Regions from separate parts of the Homo sapiens genome. Here all the other regions are linked to region 3. The links come from fine-mapping of genetic effects on gene expression. A gene starts in region 3. Each other region holds a variant in brackets. All regions are shown on one strand. Distances are from middle to middle.

Evidence for each region. PIP is the estimated chance that this variant, and not a neighbour inherited with it, causes the effect.
Region 1: its variant is fine-mapped to the expression of RAB44 in whole blood (INTERVAL, PIP above 0.99).
Region 2: its variant is fine-mapped to the expression of RAB44 in whole blood (INTERVAL, PIP 0.95).

The regions. Positions count from the first base shown.
Region 1 is chr6:36,746,054-36,752,335 of GRCh38, reverse strand. It overlaps CPNE5 (copine 5), which reads left to right. Exons shown (of 21, transcript NM_020939.2): 15 at 4,069-4,115; 16 at 5,759-5,940. Among named protein-coding and RNA genes, the nearest start is that of RAB44, 51 kb to the right of the region's middle. The variant T/C (reference allele first, on the strand shown) is at 3,545.
Region 2 is chr6:36,716,447-36,722,728 of GRCh38, reverse strand. RAB44 (RAB44, member RAS oncogene family) reads right to left here. Exons shown (of 14, transcript NM_001257357.2): 5 at 5,310-5,456; 6 at 4,611-4,701; 7 at 4,141-4,236; 8 at 2,179-2,366; 9 at 1-1,578. Among named protein-coding and RNA genes, the nearest start is that of RAB44, 22 kb to the right of the region's middle. RefSeq lists enhancers at 2,443-2,622, 5,276-5,777. The variant T/C (reference allele first, on the strand shown) is at 2,697.
Region 3 is chr6:36,694,929-36,701,210 of GRCh38, reverse strand. It overlaps RAB44 (RAB44, member RAS oncogene family), which reads right to left and starts at 3,385. Exons shown (of 14, transcript NM_001257357.2): 1 at 3,296-3,385.

The DNA of each region.
Region 1 (6,282 bases), 51 kb before region 3:
GCAGCTCACGGAAAGAGCCTGGCTCTAAGGGTAGAGCCTGCCCAGCATGCTGCCTGCCAGGACAGGTGCCAGGTCAGGGCGTGGGCAGCCAAGAGCCCGCAGGTGAGTGACTGCACCTGTCTGGAAAGGAGACAGGCAGGAGCAACTGCCAAAGGCTCATCCCAGCCAAGTGGACCCTTGGCTGCCTGGTTCTCCAGGGCAGAGGGAGAAGTCAGGTCCTGGGAAGCCACACTCACTTTCCCATGACAACACTCCCTGCTGCCTTGAGCTTGCAGTCTCAAGGCTGCAAGCTCTCCTCCTACCCACTGAGCACACACCCTGCCTCCAGTCACTCAGGAGCTCCTCTGCTCTTACCTGCCCCTCCTCTGGGCTGACTCCAGACCCCGCCTTTGCACTCTTCCCCCATCAAAATTGCTTCCCTCTCAATCCCATTAATCAGCCACCCCTTACAGTCCATAGCACCTGGTAACTCTCAAACACCCCTCATCCTGTTTATTTTTATTTATGTTTATTTTATTTTATTTTATTTTATTTATTTTTTGAGACAGAGTCTCGCTCTGTCACTCAGGCTGGAGTGCAGTGGCACAATCTCGGCTTACTGCAACCTCCGCCTCCTGGGTTCAAGCAATTCTCCTGCCTCAGCCTATCAAGTAGAGTAGCTGGGGCTACAGGCATGCGCCACCACCCCCAGCTAATTTTTGTATTTTTAGTAGAGACGGGCTTTCACCATTTTGGCCAGGCTGGTCTCGAACTCCTGACCTCAGGTGATTCGCCTGCCTCGGCCTCCCAAAGTGCTGGGATTACAGGCATGAGCCACCACACCCAGTCCATCCTATTTATTTTTTTCATTTGCATAGTACCCCCAACTTACAGAACACAGTGGGCAGGATCAGAACAGTTATCCCCATTTTACAGAGCTTGCCTGAAGCCACACGCCTAGATGGTGGCAGGGTTCCTTCTCCCATAACATGCTGCCTTTCATTCTATAGTAATGAATCAGTCTAGCCTGCCTGACTTGCAGTTAGCGGGTGGGGTGGGATGAAGATGGAGACTGATGAGTTAAAGGGCTGGATGCTGTGAGGTTTCATCGAAAAGGAGCCCTCAGAGGCTGAGCTAAGCTGGTGCCACCCATACTGGGCAGGTTATAGCCCCAGAGCCAGCCCTCTCTTTAAACTCTCTGGAGAGCCTGAGTGAGGGAGCTGGCTCCAGGGACTGAGAGCCTGGCATGCATGCCCAGGCAGGAAGCTGATGTCTAGGGATCCTCTCCTCCCTGGCCTCCCTCACCTGCCCACCTGGACCCAGGAGGAAGGGTATGGGTACTTTGGCCCCACTGTCAGAGGAGGAGCTGGTTGCTCAGCAGCCTGTGTTCTACCCTTAGGCAGGAGACACTAGGCTGCTGCGAGTAATTTTCCCACAAGAGGATCTGCTTTCCAATTGCTTCCTTTCCCAAGGCTTTTCAGAACCCAGGGCAGGGGAGGACTAGTTAGAGCAAGGCCTGCCTTTCCCCTCACCCTGTATTTGGAAGAGCCAGTCCAACAGTGTCCCTCCAGTATAGTCCCACAGGCCAGAATCATCTTCCCAAGAGTGGCCCTGGGAGCGGGACTTTCACCCTCCAAATGTCTCCCTACCTCTAACAAAGACATGCGTTCTACATTCCACACTGAAGCGGGGGTGACAACAAACAGCAGATGAGTATGGTAGGTCAACTGCTGTAACACATAATTCCCTAACCTCAAGCCTTCATACCAATAAAGGTCTGTTTTTCATCTGTGGGATGGCAGGGTTGGGTGGGGAGATGATCCACGCAGTCATTCAGGGACCCAGGTTCTTGCTAGCTTTGCGGCTCCTTCTATCCTACTGCCTGGAATCCTCTGGATGCTCTGCCCCCAGCCAGCAGAAGAGGAGAAAGAGGTGGGGATGACTGTCTGTGGCCAGCAGACCCTGGCTGGGGTCTCCTGCTAACCATGTCCTTGACATTTCCCTGGGGGTGAGTGAGGGTTCCATGAGCAGCAGCTCAGCTGTGATCAGGTGGTTTCTGATAGGGACCTTCTGCTGTGTCTGTGACAGGGATCTTGGGCTGATAGAGCTGTGGTTTCTGATAGGCACCTTCTGCTAAATGCAAGTGAGGTGAGGCCTACCTGATCTTACATCATCCATAGCCCCAACTAAGAATTACTAGAACAGAGTTTTCCCCAGCGTTATCCCAGCCTCGTGTCCTCATAATCCCTGGATGAAGGCAGTGGACATTTTTTCAAGAGGTAGATTCTGGGAGCCACTCCAGACAAACTCAATTGGCATTTCTGGGGTGGAGCCCTGGAATCTTCTTAAGCAAGCACCCGTAGTGATTCTATGCTCACTGCCGTGTGAGAACCATAAGACTAGACTTTATCAGGGACTTGTGTTTGTCAGCTTTGTTCTGTCTGGACCCGGCAGAGAACCTAGAATGGCCAAGCCCTCAGAAAGTCTCAAGCCTGAATCTGAATCCTCAAAACCTAACTTTTTATTATAGAAAACGTCAAACACATGCAAATGTGGAGAAAAGGTATAATCAACATGCAAGTACCCTTCACCCAGCTTCAGCCATTACCACATCATAGCCAGTCTTGTTTCATGCACTCCACCCTTCATTCAGTCATTTATTATTATTTTTTATTTTAGTGGGTTTTTTTTTTTTATTTTTGAGGTCTCACTATGTTGCTCAGGCTGGCCTTGAACTCCTAGTGTCAATCAATCCTCCCACCTCAGGCTCCCAATATCCAATTTGAAGCAAATCCCAGCCATCATATTTTATCCCCAAATGCTTTAGGATGTCTTTCTAAAACATAAGGACTCTCTCTTTATCAAACATAACCACAATACCATAACCACACCTAAAAAATTAACAATTCCTTAATACTAAATATCTAGTAAATGTTTACATCTCCCCAATTATCTTATAGTTTTAAAATTGGTTTGTTTGAGTCAGAAATCCAGGCAAGAGCCATAGGCTGTGATTGGTGGGTTGGTCTCTTAATTCTCTTTTCATCTATTCATTCCCCCCAAGCACCTGAATGGCTTGCTAACACAGATTCCTGTACCCCACCAAGAGAATCTAATATTCAGCCAGATGTGGTGGCTCACACCTGTAATCCCAGCACTTTGGGAGGCTGAGGCAGGAGGATTACTTTTGCCCAGGAGTTCAAGACCAGGTTGGCCAATATAATGAGACCCCATCTCTGCAAAAAGAAAAAAAAAAGCCAGGTGTGGTGGTGCGTGCCTGTGGTCCCAGCTATTTAGGAGGCTGAGGTGGGAAAACTGCTTGAGCCCAGGAGGTTGAGGCTGAAGTGAGCTGTGATCACGCCACTGCATTTCAGCCTGGGTGACAGAGCGAGACCTCTTTTCCAAAAAAAGATTCAGGAGAGCTAGATAGAGTCTGAGAGGCCCAGCATATTCCCAGGAGATGGTGCTGCTGCTGTCTCTGGTAGTGCTTCTACAGAGTTTCCCAAAGACTGGATTTTGCTGGCTGCATCTCCTGTGGTGTCATTTAATGTGTTCCTCTGTCCCT[T/C]GTATTTCCTGTAACTAACTAGACAGCTCTGGAGCCTCAATCAGAATCAGGTTCAATTTTTTGGTAAGACAACTTCATGGGTGGTATTCTATTCTTTCTTTAGGAGATGCATAATGTCTATTTGACTCTCTTTTTTGTCAAATGAGTTTTCGTCCTGAATCTCACTCCAAATTTGAGTCAGCAATCCAATGAGACCCAACCTCACCCAGCCTACACAGGTGGGCCCAGGGGGTAGGGTTTGTGGAGGAAATAAGTGACCATAGCCACATGCCCACACAGAACACAATCATCTTCAAAGAGCTTTCCTACTGCATAACTCTTCTGATGCTCATTAATCCTGTAAGGGGGGCATAGCTGGCATTACTATCTCAGCTCTCCAGAACTAGAAAGAGATGAATGACTTCACCAAGGCCACACACCTGGCAAGCAGCAGAGCCAGGGTGGTAGCCAATGTCTAGCACTGTCCCCCCTCCCACAGCCCTGCCTCCCTCCAGGTGACTCCCCTGCTGTTCTCCCTCTTCTAGGACCCAGATCAACTTCACTGTGGCCATTGATTTCACTGCCTCCAATGGTGAGTTGGGGGATGGGTAGAGGAGCAGGGTGGGAGGAGAGAGCTTTTAAGGGCTGTGGCATCTGGCCCTGGCTGGGACCATGACCCTCATACTCTCTGGCCTCTTCCTCACCAAAGAGGATGTACCTAGGTCTGGAGGACCAAAGATACAACCAAGATGGCAGTAGTATCCCCAGGTTGGACCATTGACATAAATCTGGGCTCTGAGCCACAGCCTTGTCCTTGAGGAACACCCAGTCTCCCTGGGGGAATGGGATTGTGTGTACTCTGGGCCTATGGAGGGCCCTGGAGATGTTTCCCCCCGGGATCAAATCCCAGCTCCTCTGTGCAGTCCAACCCACAGGCTGGAGTGGAGAATCAGAGCCAAGGCTGAGCTCTGTGGTGTTCAGGGAGGCAGGATCCAGCCCAGGGACCCCAGTCCTTACCTGGCTGGGGCTGCCCTGGCTTCCTTACCTCCTCCCAATTTCTCCAGTGTCAGCCTGTGGCTGAGTCACTAGGAGCAATAACAGTGCCCAACTTTACATGATTAGAAACATCACAACCTCCCTTGGGCTCTGGGCTCTATTAGGGGTGCTCAGTGCTAATTTTTGCACCAATCAAAAATGCCCAGGTCTTGCCCTCTACAGGTGTCAGGAGCTCCTCTTATAGCTGTAAGTCCTAGCATCATAGAGCACTGGGCTATCAGAGCTGGAAGGGGCCTTAGTAATAATAACACTGAGGATAGTTATCATAATATCGATAGCATCTGTGTAATATTCACATCAATCCTATGAAGTAGGAACTATTATTGCTCTGATTTTACAGGTGAAGAGACTAAGGCTAAGGTTAAGGAACTTACCCAAGATCACATAACTAGCAGGAGGTAGACAGGATTGGTACCTTGGCAATCTGTGCTGTACTACCTCCCATCAATGAACAAATAAGTTAAATACAGACTATATTGGCAGCGAAGAGGGCTCTGGGGGGGGAAATCAAGCCAGGAAGAAGGATAGGAAGGATTGGGGGAGGCTGTAATTTTTAATAGGCTGCTTGGAAAAGATCACACTGAGGAGGTGACACTTGAGCAGAGACCTGAAGAGGCCAGGGAGCGGGCCAGGGAGTGGACATCTGGGGAAGAGTGTCCCAGGTAGAGGGAACAGCCATCACCAAGGTCCTGAGGTGGGAATGGCGAGGGGCTGGTGAGGCTGGGACTGGCGAGTGACAGGGAGGAGGGTAGGAGATGACCTGGAGGCCAGATCATGAGTGCTTGCGGGCTCTTGTGAGGACTTTGGGTTTCATTTTGGGGGAGGTGGAGGCATTGAGCGTTTTGGGCAGAGGAGAGGCATGATCTCTCTGAGGCGGATAGGCTCAGTCACTGCTGTGCTGGATATGGGCTGGAGGCACAGGGGCAGAAGGAAGTGGGAGATCAGTTAGGAGACTGCTGCATCCTATAAGCAAGAGGGTGGTGGTATGGGGAGGAGGAGAGGCGGAGGAGGGATTCTAGATCTGTTTTGCTGAAGGATTTAACATGGGGTATGAGAGAAAGAGAGGAGTCAAGAATTAATAAAAGTTAGGGGTGCCCTTGGACACCCCCTTCTTCATTCTGAACCCGGGGTGACTTGGAGGGTCCAGATGGTCAAAGGCTCCCATGTCCTGTGTTACAGGGAACCCCTCACAGTCCACATCCCTGCACTACATGAGCCCCTACCAGCTGAACGCCTACGCGCTGGCGCTGACTGCCGTCGGAGAGATCATCCAGCACTACGACAGTGACAAGATGTTCCCTGCCCTGGGCTTCGGGGCCAAGCTGCCCCCGGATGGCAGAGTGTCCCACGAGTTCCCACTGGTAGGTGGTCCCGCTGGTGGGAGAGAGGACTGATCAGGCTGGGGGTGAGGTGACAAGCTGGGGGTGGGGGGACGTTTCCCTTCCTCTGAGCCCGGGGACTTAAGGCTCAGCCTCAGTGGAGGTAGACTGCCTGCTGTGTGTAGGGGGGCTCCAGAAATCCACTCCCTTCCCTGATCACAGATGCTGCCCCTCCATGTCTGAAGCTGCCTGCCCACAGCTGGCCCTGGCTTCCTTGTTCCTGACAAGACGCAGGTGCAGGTGGAGGCGAGCTGTGGCTGACCCATCCCTCAGGGCCCCAGAAAAGTGAACAAGGTGGTGTGGGTTGGGTATCCCTGAGTCAGT
Region 2 (6,282 bases), 22 kb before region 3:
GTAGCTGTCAATCCGGTGGCGAAAGAATTCTGGTGCAGCAGGTGCAGGAAGGATGTTTTGCCCACGTTGGAGTCTCCCAGAAAGATGACATGGAAGAGGTAATCAGGGTTGGCCTGGGGTCCCCCTCCAGCCATGGGGTCTCCCGGGGATGGGGTCAGCCCAGCTTCCCTGGAGTCCATTCCTGGATCTTCAAGCCTGCTCTCTGCCCTTGGTTCCCTGGAGTGAGGCGGGCCTTGTTCTTCTGCGTGAGCAGTCGTGAGGGATGGCCTGGGTTGGGCTTCCTGCTCAGCCATGGTGGGAGGGGTTTGCGTGGGTTCCTGGGGTCCTGCTCCAGCCCCAGGCTGAGCCCCCCTGGGAGGAGAGCCCCTTGGAGGTGCCGATTTTCCAGGAGTGGGGCCTTCTGCTTCCACCTGAGCCTGTGGTGTGGCAGATGGGAGAGAAACAAGCAGAGAGTCTTGCTGGGGGAGTTCCGAATGCGCAGTTTCTAGGCCGTGAGCCTCAACCGACTGCTCTGACTGCTCTGAACTGAGGTCCTGCCCACCTCTGCCCTCTTGTTTTCCTTCCTCAGACCTGGGTTCCTCTTCCAGCTCCTGGTGGGGGAAGGCAGACAGCTCACCCAGCCCAAGGACCTGGCCATGAGCTTCTCTTAGCCCCTCAGGAAGGCCCTCCTGCACCGCTGGGCCCGCCTGGCCCTGCTCCAGCCTCTCTGTGGGCACCGGACCCACAAATTCCAGGCCCTGGAAGGGCTCAGCTGGCCCCAGGGTGAGGGCTCTAGCCCTCTGGGTCCCCAGTCTTGGCTCAGAGCCAGTGGCATGCAGGTCCTGCTGGAGGGCATCTCTCTGCCTGGGCGGCTTGGCTGGGCCCACTCCTGTGAGGGCAGTTGTGGGTGAGGGTCCGGGCTGGGTTTCCCGCTCAGTCATGGTGGGAGGGGTTTGTGTGGGTTCCTGGGGTCCTGCTCCAGCCCCAGGCTGAGCCCCGCTGGGAGGAGCCCAAGACCCAGGGCCCTTGTCATCTGGGTCTGAGGCCTGGATCTGTTTGCTGGACCCAGCTGGGGCCTGGGGAGGGGGAGAGTTCGCAGGGGGAGGGGGCCCATCCTCCAAAGGAATGAGCACTTTGAATGCAGGTGCCACCAGGCTTCCTGAGAGACCCCAGAGGAGGCGGCCCTCGGGTGTGGACCCTGGCTCCTGGTTGGGGTCCGGGTCGTGCGGTTCAACAGGCTGCTCTGCTCTAATGTCCTGCTCATGTGGGTCCACTCCTTTATTGTCCTTGGCGCTGAAAGTCACCCCAGGTGGGGTCCTTGGAGCCCCATCTGGATCTGAAGATGGCTCCTGACCAAATAGAAAAGCCTGTGGCTCCGAGATGGAGATCTGCCTGACCACACGGGGTGTCTGGGGGCCTGAGGTGGCTCTTGGGGTCGGGGGCGGGCTCCAGCAGAGCTGCAGGGCTCCGTGCGGAGGGCTGCCAAAGTTGCTCAGTAGCTGGTCCCAGTCATCGTTGTCCCCAAATAGCCCAGGCAGGGGGGCCTCCTCAGGGGAGGCAGCCTGAGGGTCTGGGGTCTTCTCACCCGCTCCAGGAAAACTGGAAATGAAGCAGGGAAGCAAAGATCGGGGAGGGGCAGGTAGGTGGTGTCACACCCATCCCACCTGCAGCCCTCACCATCCCTTGCTCTCCCCATGGCCAGGTCTCCTCCCAGTCCTTGCTCAGGCAATCTTTCTCACCTGGTATGTGCTCCCCATTCCTCCTCCTCATCCAATCCTGTCCATCCTCAAGACCCACATGAAGCCTCACCTCCTCCAGGAAGCCTTCCTTGATCATTCTGGCCCATCCCACTTCTCTGAGCTATAACAAGTAGAGTGAGTGCCTGCTAGGGATCTAGCACTGCACTAGGACATGTGTGTGTGTGTATGTGTGTGTGTATGTGTGTACACGTACATGCACACATGTGCATGTTTTACTTCTAGCCATGTGGCCTTGGGCACAGGTGTTTCCCTTTTTTGTGCCCCAGTTTCCTCATCTGAGAAATGGTTGTGATAGTTCCAGCTTGGCAGAGGGTGGGGTTTAAGGAAGGAGTCTATGTGTGCACTGTGTGCTAGCTAGATCCTTAGAGAACTCAGAGTTCCCCACTGGTTCCAGGAGGCCCTTAGAGTCCACCCCAGTCCAGGGATAGCAGCCACTTGCCTCAGTTTCTCCTCCACCTGCCAGGACACCCGGCCCCTGGCGGCGTCCAGGCGCCCCCTGGTCACCTGCAGCTGCCCCCGCACCTCCTCCAGCCGCCCAGCCAGGTCACGCTTGGCCTCCTGCAGCTGCTGGTTCTCTGAGGCAGCCTCCTGATGTGTGCTCCTGAGGTGGGAGAGCTGGGCCTCCAGCTGCAGGGTGGAGGGTGAGGCGGAGAGAAGCCCAGATGCCCTCCAGGGCGCAAAAAGCCTCCCAAGGCCATTGTGGGACACAGACCCCCACCCCCTGTCCAGGCTCCTGGAGACCCAGCTTAAATCAGAGTAGTGGTGGGCGGTTATCCCTCCTTGGCCTAACTAGCTCCATTAGCTCCTATCTAGGAGGGGCACTGGAAATCCTAGGGTGGGGAGGGCAGGGAGACTGTGTGAGAAACAAAAACCACCAGCGCCACAAAGGCCCCACACCCAAGCCAAATCCCACCCTCCTCTACTCAGCGCCCTACAGTGGCTGCTGGCCCCTGAGCC[T/C]GTCTGGTCTACAGGGGGCTCCTGATCCAACAGCAAATCTCATGACCCAGAGAGGGAGCATTGCTTGGCCAAGTGAAGGGAAAGGCAAAGCTCTTGCAATGGCCTCCGGGACACTGCACAGTCTCCTGCAGCCTCCTCACCTCCCCTCATGACCCTCACCTCCTTTCCTATGGCTGTTGCCTCAGTCTGTTCCAGTCCACAGCTCTGCTTACTGTTCTGTGAACTTCCACAGCTCATGCCCGCTCAGGGCCTTCGCACCTGCTGTTCCCTCTGCCTGGATGCCCTTCCCCCACATATCACACTTCTCCAGGTCTTCGCTCCAATGTCATCATCTCAGCCAGGCCTTCCTTGACTCCCTTCTCAACTTACTTTGACTACGATTTCAACTCCTACGACTCTTCTATCCCCCTTCCCTGTTTTACTTTATTCTCCTTAGCACTGATCACCATTTCCTATGTTATTATGTCACCTGTCTCCCTGACTAGATGGTAACTCTGTGGGCAGAGGTTTGTGTCTGTCATGATCCTCAGGACCTGGAACAGTGTCTGGCACATAGTTGGTGCTGGATAAGTAGCTGTGGGGTGAAGGAATAAATGATTGGAGGGGAGAAGCTTCACATCCACAGGGGACAGGACGAAATGGCCCCATGTGTAAAGCCCTATCTCTTCACTTGGCAGGAGGGGCCTGCCTCGATTTCCAAGGAGCAGCAGCAGAGGCACCTGGGAAATCAACCTGGTAACAGGGCCAGCCCAGGCCGTGGTGAGGACGGCTCGAGGAATCTTGTCCCGGGCTGAAGGGATGCTTCTTGTCCTGGTTACAGCAGAGCACAATTTTACCAAGGTCAGTGGTCTTCAAGTTGAGAAAGGAAGAGATAATGGGGCGCTGATCACAAGGTCAGGAGATTGAGACCACGGTGAAACCCCATCTCTACTAAAAATACAAAAAATTAGCTGGGCGCAGTGATGGGCGCCTGTAGTCCCAGCTACTCGGGAGGCTGAGGCAGGAGAATGGCGTGAACCATTCTCCTGAGGTGAACTGAGGCGGAGCTTGCAGTGAGCCAAGACTGCGCCACTGCACTCCAGCCTGGGTGACAGCATGATTCCGTGTCAAAAAAAAAAAAATGGGGCAGGGTCTCAGACCCAAACACTCAACCACAGTGCCACCTGGAAGTGACTACAGGCTATAAGACCTGCAGTGTCCGGGCAGCAGCAAGTAACCTGACCCTAAGCAGGAAGCTAGGTCAGTTTCAGAGATGGAACAACTGAGGCACAAAGCACCTACTACGTGCCAGGCACTGTCTCAGGCCCTCACATGTAGTATCTCTAATCATCACAGTACCTTCTAAGGCAGGAGTTCTGATTTCCATGTCTCTGATAGGAAACTGAGGTTCATAGATATTAAAGACCTGTTCGGAAGTAGGTTTCTGGGAAACCCTATTACTCACCTCCCTCTGGCCCTCAGCTAGTCGCTGCACCTCGCGCTCCTTGGCCTCTAGGACGTCCTGCATCTGGGAGGTGAGGGCCAGGCCCCGAGAGTCGCTCTGTGGAGTAGGTAGATTCAGCCCTCACCCTGCAGACTCTAAGAGCTAGCCAGGCAGGCCAGCCCTTCTCACACTCCACCTCCACCACCTGGGGTGCCTGGGCCAGGATGCCCCAGCAGGGAGGGTTCTCAGGACAACTCCTCCAGTTCCAGCCTAGATTGTGGCAACAAGGAGACTTGGCAGAGATGGGAAGGGGGCCCAGGCTCGACACTCCCCACCTCGTCTCTCTGGGGAACACCAGCTGCTCAGGGCAGGGAGAGGATTCACTACAGCAGCCTCCTGTTCCCCACCCTGGCCAGTCACTGGCCCCATTCCTTAGCCAGCAGAGGTGTCCCGGGCAGTGGGAAGGAGGCAGGCTGCCGGCGGGAGCCCACCTCAGCCTGCAGCTGCTGCTTCTCCTGGCGGATCTGCTGCTCCATCTCCTCATAGAGCTGCTGGACCTCGCGGTGGTGGTCAGAGTCACGCCTGGGAGGAGCAGGAGTTGGGGCCAGGCAGCCCATCAGCACCTCTGGGAGCCTGCTGCTGGCAGGGGCAGTCTGGGCTTGGGTTTGGAATCCATCCTATTGCTTTCCTCACTCTGCCAGCAGTCACTGACCTCTGTCACCCTGAGAACAGCCATCCCAGTAACAACCCCCTGACCCATACAACTTTGACATTGGTCCTGCTGATCCTACCACGCCGACCCTTGTAACCGTCACCAGTTCCCCTGGCCAGGGTCTCATTGTCCCCATCACCCCATCACTCAGTCCCCACTCCCTCTTTCACCGTCCTCCTGCCCTTATAACCCAACTCCAGGGTCACCACATGCATTACAGTCTACGGGAGCAGGCCCCCTGGAGTTGGGCGTCACAGTGGGTCCTGTACCAAGACACACCCTGCCCTTCCCACTCCTGCCATTACCAACTCTGTCCTCCCCACCCGGTCCCCTGAGCCACCTCTTCCTCCAGCGCAGCTCTGCCCTATCCAGCTCACAGGCCCAGCTGCAGGAGGAGCTGGGGAAATTCAACCAGATTCCACTGGAATGTGAAGAGCACCTACTTCGTATCAGACACCCGGCCAGGCCCCCCACTCACTTCCTCAGGGTCAGCTCCAGGGCCTCCTTGTCCGCCTGGGCCTCCTGCAGGCGGCTGGTCATCTTGGCCAGAAAGCCTGCCAGGTTGCCTGCCAGCTGGGGCTCCTCCTGCCGCAGCTGCCCCCACAGTTGCCAGATTTCCATCTGCCTGGGGAGGGGAAGACAGCCAGAGATGGGAGGGTCAGACACAAGGTGGGATGGAGAAGCAAGGGGAGCCCCACTCCTCAGTTTTCACTGCAGCGCTCCAAGAGACTTTGGCACCTGGGCCAAATCTATTGACACCCTACAAGATGCAACTAAAACGCCACCTCCTCCAGGAACCATTCCCAGATGTGCCCTCTCCCTTCTCGAACCCCCGCCACACTGTGTCTCTCTATGATTCCGTAATAGTGGGATGGGGGGATTTGGGAGCCTGATGGCCCAGAGCTTCCATCTGCCCTCTCTCTTCTCTCACTCTGAGGCTGTGTGACCTCCAGCAAGTCCCAAGCCCTCTCTGGGCTCATTTGTAAAATGGGGTGGGGGCTGATACCTGCCAAGCAAGGTCACTGGGGAATGAGAAACACCTGATGAAAGCACCAGCTCAGGGCCTGCCACACGGTTGGTGCCCAATAAAGGCTGCTTTCACATGGATTTAATTAAGTCATGAGGATGGATGCCAGAGGGCTGAGCCTAGGCCAAGATGCCAAATGAATACAAAGCTCCCCACCCCCTTGCCCCACCAGTCTACACCCTAAGTCCTACCCTGCCTGCCTCACAACACCTGGCCCCACCCTCCGGGAGCCAAGCGTGAGGAATCTTGTCCTCACAGAACCCCATGGGTGGGGCAAGCAAACCTGGGCCAGTGGGTGAGGGCAATTCCCTCACTGGTTCTAACAGACCCGGGGGTCCTAGGAGGGGACGTTAGCAGGCAGGGCTCCCTTTCTATCTCTCTCTTTTTTTTTTTTTTTTTTTGAGACAGAGTCTTGCTCTGTCAC
Region 3 (6,282 bases):
TTGAACCCAAGAGGCAGAGGTTGCAGTGAGCCAAGATTGCACCACTGCACTCTAGCCTAGGCAACAGAGTGAGACACTGTCTCAGAAAAAAAGTCTTTCTAATAAAAAGCAGGGAGGCAAAAAAGCCAAGAATGAGGAATAAGATTCTACGGGTTAGAATAGGGAAGTCCCCATGCTAATCTAACTGGCCTTCACGCGGTATCTCTCACCCCTAATTCATCCCATGTTGCTCCATGGAAACAGTGACCACATAGATACCCCTTCTTGGGCCTAGAGGCCTTCCACACCTAGAAAGACACCATCTATCTCCATTCCCCATCCCCCCTAAGAGGGGAGCCCCCTCCCTCCATGGGCCTATGACCCTTCTTCAGTGGCTAATGGGGTTTGGCCTGGCAGTTCCAGCCTTGCAGGTTACACTCAAAGAAAGACTCCCTGTAGCATAGAAGGGGATTAATAAACAAAACAACAACAACAAAATAAGCTGGGCGTGGTGGCCTGTAATCCCAGTACTTTGGGAGGCTGAGGCGAGAGGATCACTTGAGCCCAGGAGTTCAGGACCAGCCTGGGCAACATAGCGAGACCCTGTCTCTACAAAATAAAATAAAACTAGCTGGGCATGGTGGGGTGCCTGTAGTCCTAGCTACTTGGGAGGCTGAGATGGGAGGATCACTTGAGCCCAGGAGGTCAAAACTGCAGTGAGCTATGATTCACCACTGCACTCCAGCCTGGGCGACAGAGTGAGATTCTGTCTCAAAAAAATAAAAAAGTAAAATTAAAAGAAAGACTCACTGAGCCTCAGAACTATGAGGGTCAGTCCCACTCTCGTGACCTGGAGATGCAGAAAAGGAGGCTCACAAGAGAAAGTGACTTCCAGTCCCATTGCTGTGAAGTCAGACAGACCTCTGCTTCTCCCAGCTCTGCTGCCCATGGGCTGTGCAACCTTAGGGAAGTCAATCAGCATCTCTGTGCCTGAGTTTCCTCACTGGAAACTTAGGACTAATATCTCTCCCACGGGGATGCTGCGAGGATTAAGCAAGATAATTAAAGTTGAAACATCAGTTCCCATTCCCCAGCATGGCCCACCTCCCTTTCCAGCTTCACTTTCTCTTAGCACTTGTCACCTTCCCAGAATAGAGAGCCTTTTGCTCGTTTTTGTTGTAAATTTTCCTTCTCCTCATGCTGAAATAGAGGCCTCACGTGAGTAGGGAGATGACCATTCTGTTCACTGTTCTATCCCAAGAGCCTAGAACAGCGCTTGGCACACAGTTGGTACTCTGCAAATATTTGCTGAATATATGATCCACATAAAGCCACTTAGGAGTGCGCTTGGTATCAGTGACTACCAGGTAAAGGTAGCAATGACAACAGTGGTGATGATATTGATAAAGGTGAATTCTATTTGAGGCACATAAAAGCCAGGTTCCATGCAGATACAATTGATCCCATTTGACAGATGAGGAAACTGAGGGAGGTTCCAAGAGGCAGAGTGACCTGCCCCAGCCATGATGTCAGTGGTAGAACTACACCAGACTCTGCTCTTCTGGTTGGTCATGGGATGGACTTCCCCAAGGCTACAGAGGTGGCTCTTCCCTGGGCAGAAGGCCCCTCTGGGGATGACAAACACCCAGTGGAGTAGCCCTGAGTGGGACAAGGGCTTTGGAACGGGGTGGGCGTTGACAGGCTTGGCTCCTGTGGTGACGCCCAATGTCTCATGTACTTCCGGCAATGGAGCTAACACGGCCAAGGGAGCAAGATAAGATTCCCTGTGCAGAAGCCTCCAGAAGCAAAGTCCACTGTGATGTGAGTGTCACATCGCAGCCTGCCGGGCTCCCACAGGTGTAGGATGTTAGAATCCTGGAAGAAATTCCCTGCAGCCACATCCTAGGACATGTGGCATTCCTGACTTTCCTTTCTGGGAGTTCCTAGCCAAGCTACACCTCCACAGCCCATTTCCAGCAGTCCCCTGGCATTTTTTAAGAAAATAGCACCTTCCAGACACCTCGCCTGCCCCACCTCAGCATCTGCCCTCTCTGCCAGTCAATCCTTCTCTCCCAGGAGGGGTACTCAGCCACCCGCTCCTTGCCTGACAGGTGGCCTGGGGCAGGAAGGCAGCAGGTGCCCTCCAGCCATCGCCACCTCAAAATCAGTCACTTGTCACCATCAGGTGGGATGGTGCACTCACCCCTCGTGCCTTCACATTCAGATCCCTGACAGCACCCCCACGGCCTGACAGCACAACCTAAAAACAGTCTGTGTCCCTTCTAGGCCAGGCCTGGTCCCTCAGAGACAGCAAGGACATCCTTCAGTCAATCCACAAATGTACACGTGCAAACGTGCACGCACACACACCCTCCTTGGCCATCATCCTCACCCTCCAATCCCTCACCATCAGCCTCTCAGTCAGACACAGCACCCCTCACGGCCATTCCATCATTCCATTCTGCATGTGCAAATGCCGTCGCCCAGCACACACATCCCTCCGAGTCAGCTGGCAGGGCCACCCTGCCAGCGCCCTTCTCCTCCACCACTTTCCCCTTAGTGCATCCTCATGCCTCACGTCCTTAAGAGTGGGGGACCCCTTCATGGCTAGGACACACATATAGCCCCTCAGCATGACCACCTCTCCCCACATCCCTCACCTAAGAAATCGCATAAAACTTGAAGCCAAACATGAGAGCAAATGAATCCCACTCCCAAGCACCTGCGGGAATCCACTACCACCGTGGTATTCTGTTAGGCAGCAGGCACCACAGGCTGCCCACCAGGAAGTGGAAGCCAGAGAAGAAGAGTGGGGTGGGGCAGCAGGCAGCAGCAGATTACAACCTGGCATGGGCCCTGCCTGGGGCCTCCGGGTATCCATCACTGTCTCACCAAAGGGCGCTCAGAACTGGGTCTGCTCTCCACTTGGCTGGCTTCAATAGCTGTAAATAATAGCCACAGTCGCTAAACCCCAGTGGTCCAAGTCAGTGGGCCTGAGAGACCACCTAGTGTCTTGTTCCAGTCTACTTATCCTCACTCCTCCTCTCCTAACTAACAGAGAAACTGAGGCTCTGAGAAACCAGGTGACTTGCCCTAGGTCACACAGCCATTTACGGGTAGTGATGTACCCCAGCCTCTTGCCCAAGTGCTTTCCCATCCCCTCCCTTAGACCATGCAGAGAGCTCCAAATGCAGGAGAAAAGAGGGCTCTGCCTTTTGCACCCTTGACATAGAAGTTAAACAGGGACCCCAGCTCCCTCCCCCATCCTCATCCTTCCAAAGAAAAAGAAGCATTGCAACCTTGGGATGGCTCCTACCTCTCAAAGGCTCCCAGTGGAACACACAGCCCTGGGCTCTGGGACCTGGTGGTAGGGTGACTGCTGCCCTGCGGAGCCCACGAGCTCTAGAACTGTTAACAGTCTTGTCTTGCTTAATCTCCCTTTCCGTTCCCCAGCGAGCCAATCTCCTGTGCTCATCTACAGGACTTCCTGTGGAAGCGACCACTGGCGGCCCTTTCACAATTTTGCCTGGCACCCCCAGGCATCCCTGCCCTGATTGGTGTCTTGAAGTGGAGAATGCTGGAGCTGGCAGGGAGGCCCTCCTAAGCAGAGGCTCCAAAGAGTGAGATGGACTGCTCAAGATCACCCAGCCCTTAGTGGCACAGCCAGGACTGGGCCTCAGTCTCTGGTTGCCAAGGCAATGCCTTATCCCAGACAGCAGCAGGTTGATGGGCACAGCCGTGGCTGAAGCTAAGTGTATGGGATGCCCCGGGAGAACTGCCCATCCTGCCTCACTTCAGGCCCTCACTCTCAGACAGTGTCTTTGAGCCTCAGGGGAGGCTTTATATCTAAACCACCTTTTAGGGAACAATCTAGTCTGATACCAAAATACACTGTAGAGCTACAACCATCAGAACAGTGTGGAATTGGAGCATGACTATAGACAGATGAATCAGTGGAACAGAATAATGAAATAGACTCAAATATTTGTGGGACAGGAATAGACTCAAATATTTGTGGGGATTTAGTGTATCATAAAGGCACCACTTCAAATCATTGGAGAAGAGATGGTTTATTCAATAAACTATGTTGGGAGAATGGGCTAGGTATCTGCAAAAAACAAAGAGCTCTAACTCTAAAAGCATTCCAGATGGATAAAAGACATAAGCATTTTAAAAATCAAAATCACATAATTATATGTTGTTTGGGATTTACTTCAAAATTATTGAAGAGTGTGGAGAATAGGTAGGACATAGATGAAACAAGACTGGCTCTGGACCTGTTCTGATCCCTGCTGGAGTTAATGAGGGTACTGCAGGCTCATTATGTTCTTCTGCTTTTCTGTATGTTTGAACAAATGCCATAAGAAATCATGGCATAGTTCATTTGCCATGGTTGCAGAAGAAGGAAGGAAAGAAAAGGAAGGAAGGAGGGAAGGAAGGGAGGGAGGGAGGGAGGGAGGAAGGAAGGAAGAAGGAAGAGAGAGAAAGAGAAAGAGAAAGAAGAGAGAGAAAGAAAGAGAGAGAAAGAGAAGAAAGAAAAAAGAAAGAAAGAAGAAAGAAACTAAGAAAGAAAGAAAGAAAGAGAAAGAAAGAAAGAAAGAAAGAAAGAAAGAAAGAAAGAAAGAAAGAAAGAAAGAAAGAAAGAAAAAAAGAGGAAGGAAGGAAGGAAAGATAGATCTGTCATGGGATAGGCTGGGTGTGGTGGCTCATGCCTGTAATCCCAGCACTCTGAGAGGCTGAGGCAGGAGGATCGCCTGAGCCCAGGAATTCAAGACCAGTCTGGACAACATAGTGAGACCCCGTCTCCATTAAAAAATAATAATAATAAAGAAGGAGAAGAAGAAGGAGGAGGAGGAGGAAGAAGAAGAAGAAGAAGAGAAAGAAGAAAAAAAGGAAGAAAGAGATCATGGGATAATTTTTAAATAATCTTGGATTAGGCAAGGCCTTTCCAGATATATCACAAAGCATTAGAAGCCACAAAAGAAAATATTGAGCCATTCAACCATACGGAAACTTTTTAAAAATAAATAAAACTGAATGGCAAAAAAAGGTCACCACTGATAAGTCAAAAGGCAAACTCTGAAAAAATACTTACGTATCATAGAAAATAAGTTAATTTCCTCCCTCTGTAAAGAACTCCTGCAGATCAATGAAAGACCAATAATGCATTAGAGAAATTGGCACCATATGTGAATAAACAATTCATGGAAAAATAAATATCAATGGATTTAAACATATGAAAAATATTTATAAAAGTAAACATTTCTGTTTATAAAAATATAATAAGAGAAATAAAAGATAAAACTACGTACCATCACAAAGAAGATGAGGGTAAAAATAAAAAATAAAACTACACCGAGACATCATTTTCAGCTATTCAATTAGTAAGATCCAAAAAGTGATATATTATGTCATAAAGGATGTAGGAAACACATTCACACATTATTGGCAGGAATATAAACTGGTACAACTTTTATGAAAAGAAGTGTATAATATCTGTCAACATTTAAAATGCAAAAATCTTTCTACCCAGCAATTTCACTTTCAGTCATTGATTCCACAGATGATATACAATATGACAGTATGGAAGGATACTCATTACAGTATTGTCTGTGGTAGCAAAGGATTGGAAATGATCTAAATTTCCATCAGTAGGGAGCTGGTTAAATGAGCTCTGATACATCCGAACATTGGCATACTCTGCACCGTGAAGAAAATGAGAAAGATCCAGGTGGAGTGATATGGAATGACCTTCAAGATATTGTGTCATATGAAAAAAGTAAGGTGCAGAACAGTGAGGATAGTGTGCTTTTTATGAAGAAAAAAGTGTATGTGTGTGTATGAAATATATGCAATAGATAAGGGCCGTGATATAGTTAAGTTTTATGTCCTCACCCAAATCTCATCTTGAATTATACTCCCTATGTGTCAAAGGAAGGAAGTGATTGGATTATGGGGGCAGTTTCCCCCATGCTGTTCTCGTAACAGTGAGTGAATTCTCAAGAGAGCTGATGGTTTTATAAATGGCAGTTTTTCCTGTGCTTATATACTTTCCTCCCCTGCTGCCATGTGAAGAAGGTCCTTGCTTCCCCTCACCTTCCGCCATGATTGTAAGTCTCCTGAGGCCTCCCCAGCCATATGGAACTGTGAGTCAATTAAATCTCTTTCCTTTGTAAATTACCCAGTTTCCGGTATTTCTCTATAGCAGTGTGAAAATGGACTAATACAGGCCAGGTGAGGTGGCTCACACCTGTAATCCTAGCACTTTTGGAGGCTGAGACAGGCAGATTGCTTGAGCCCAGG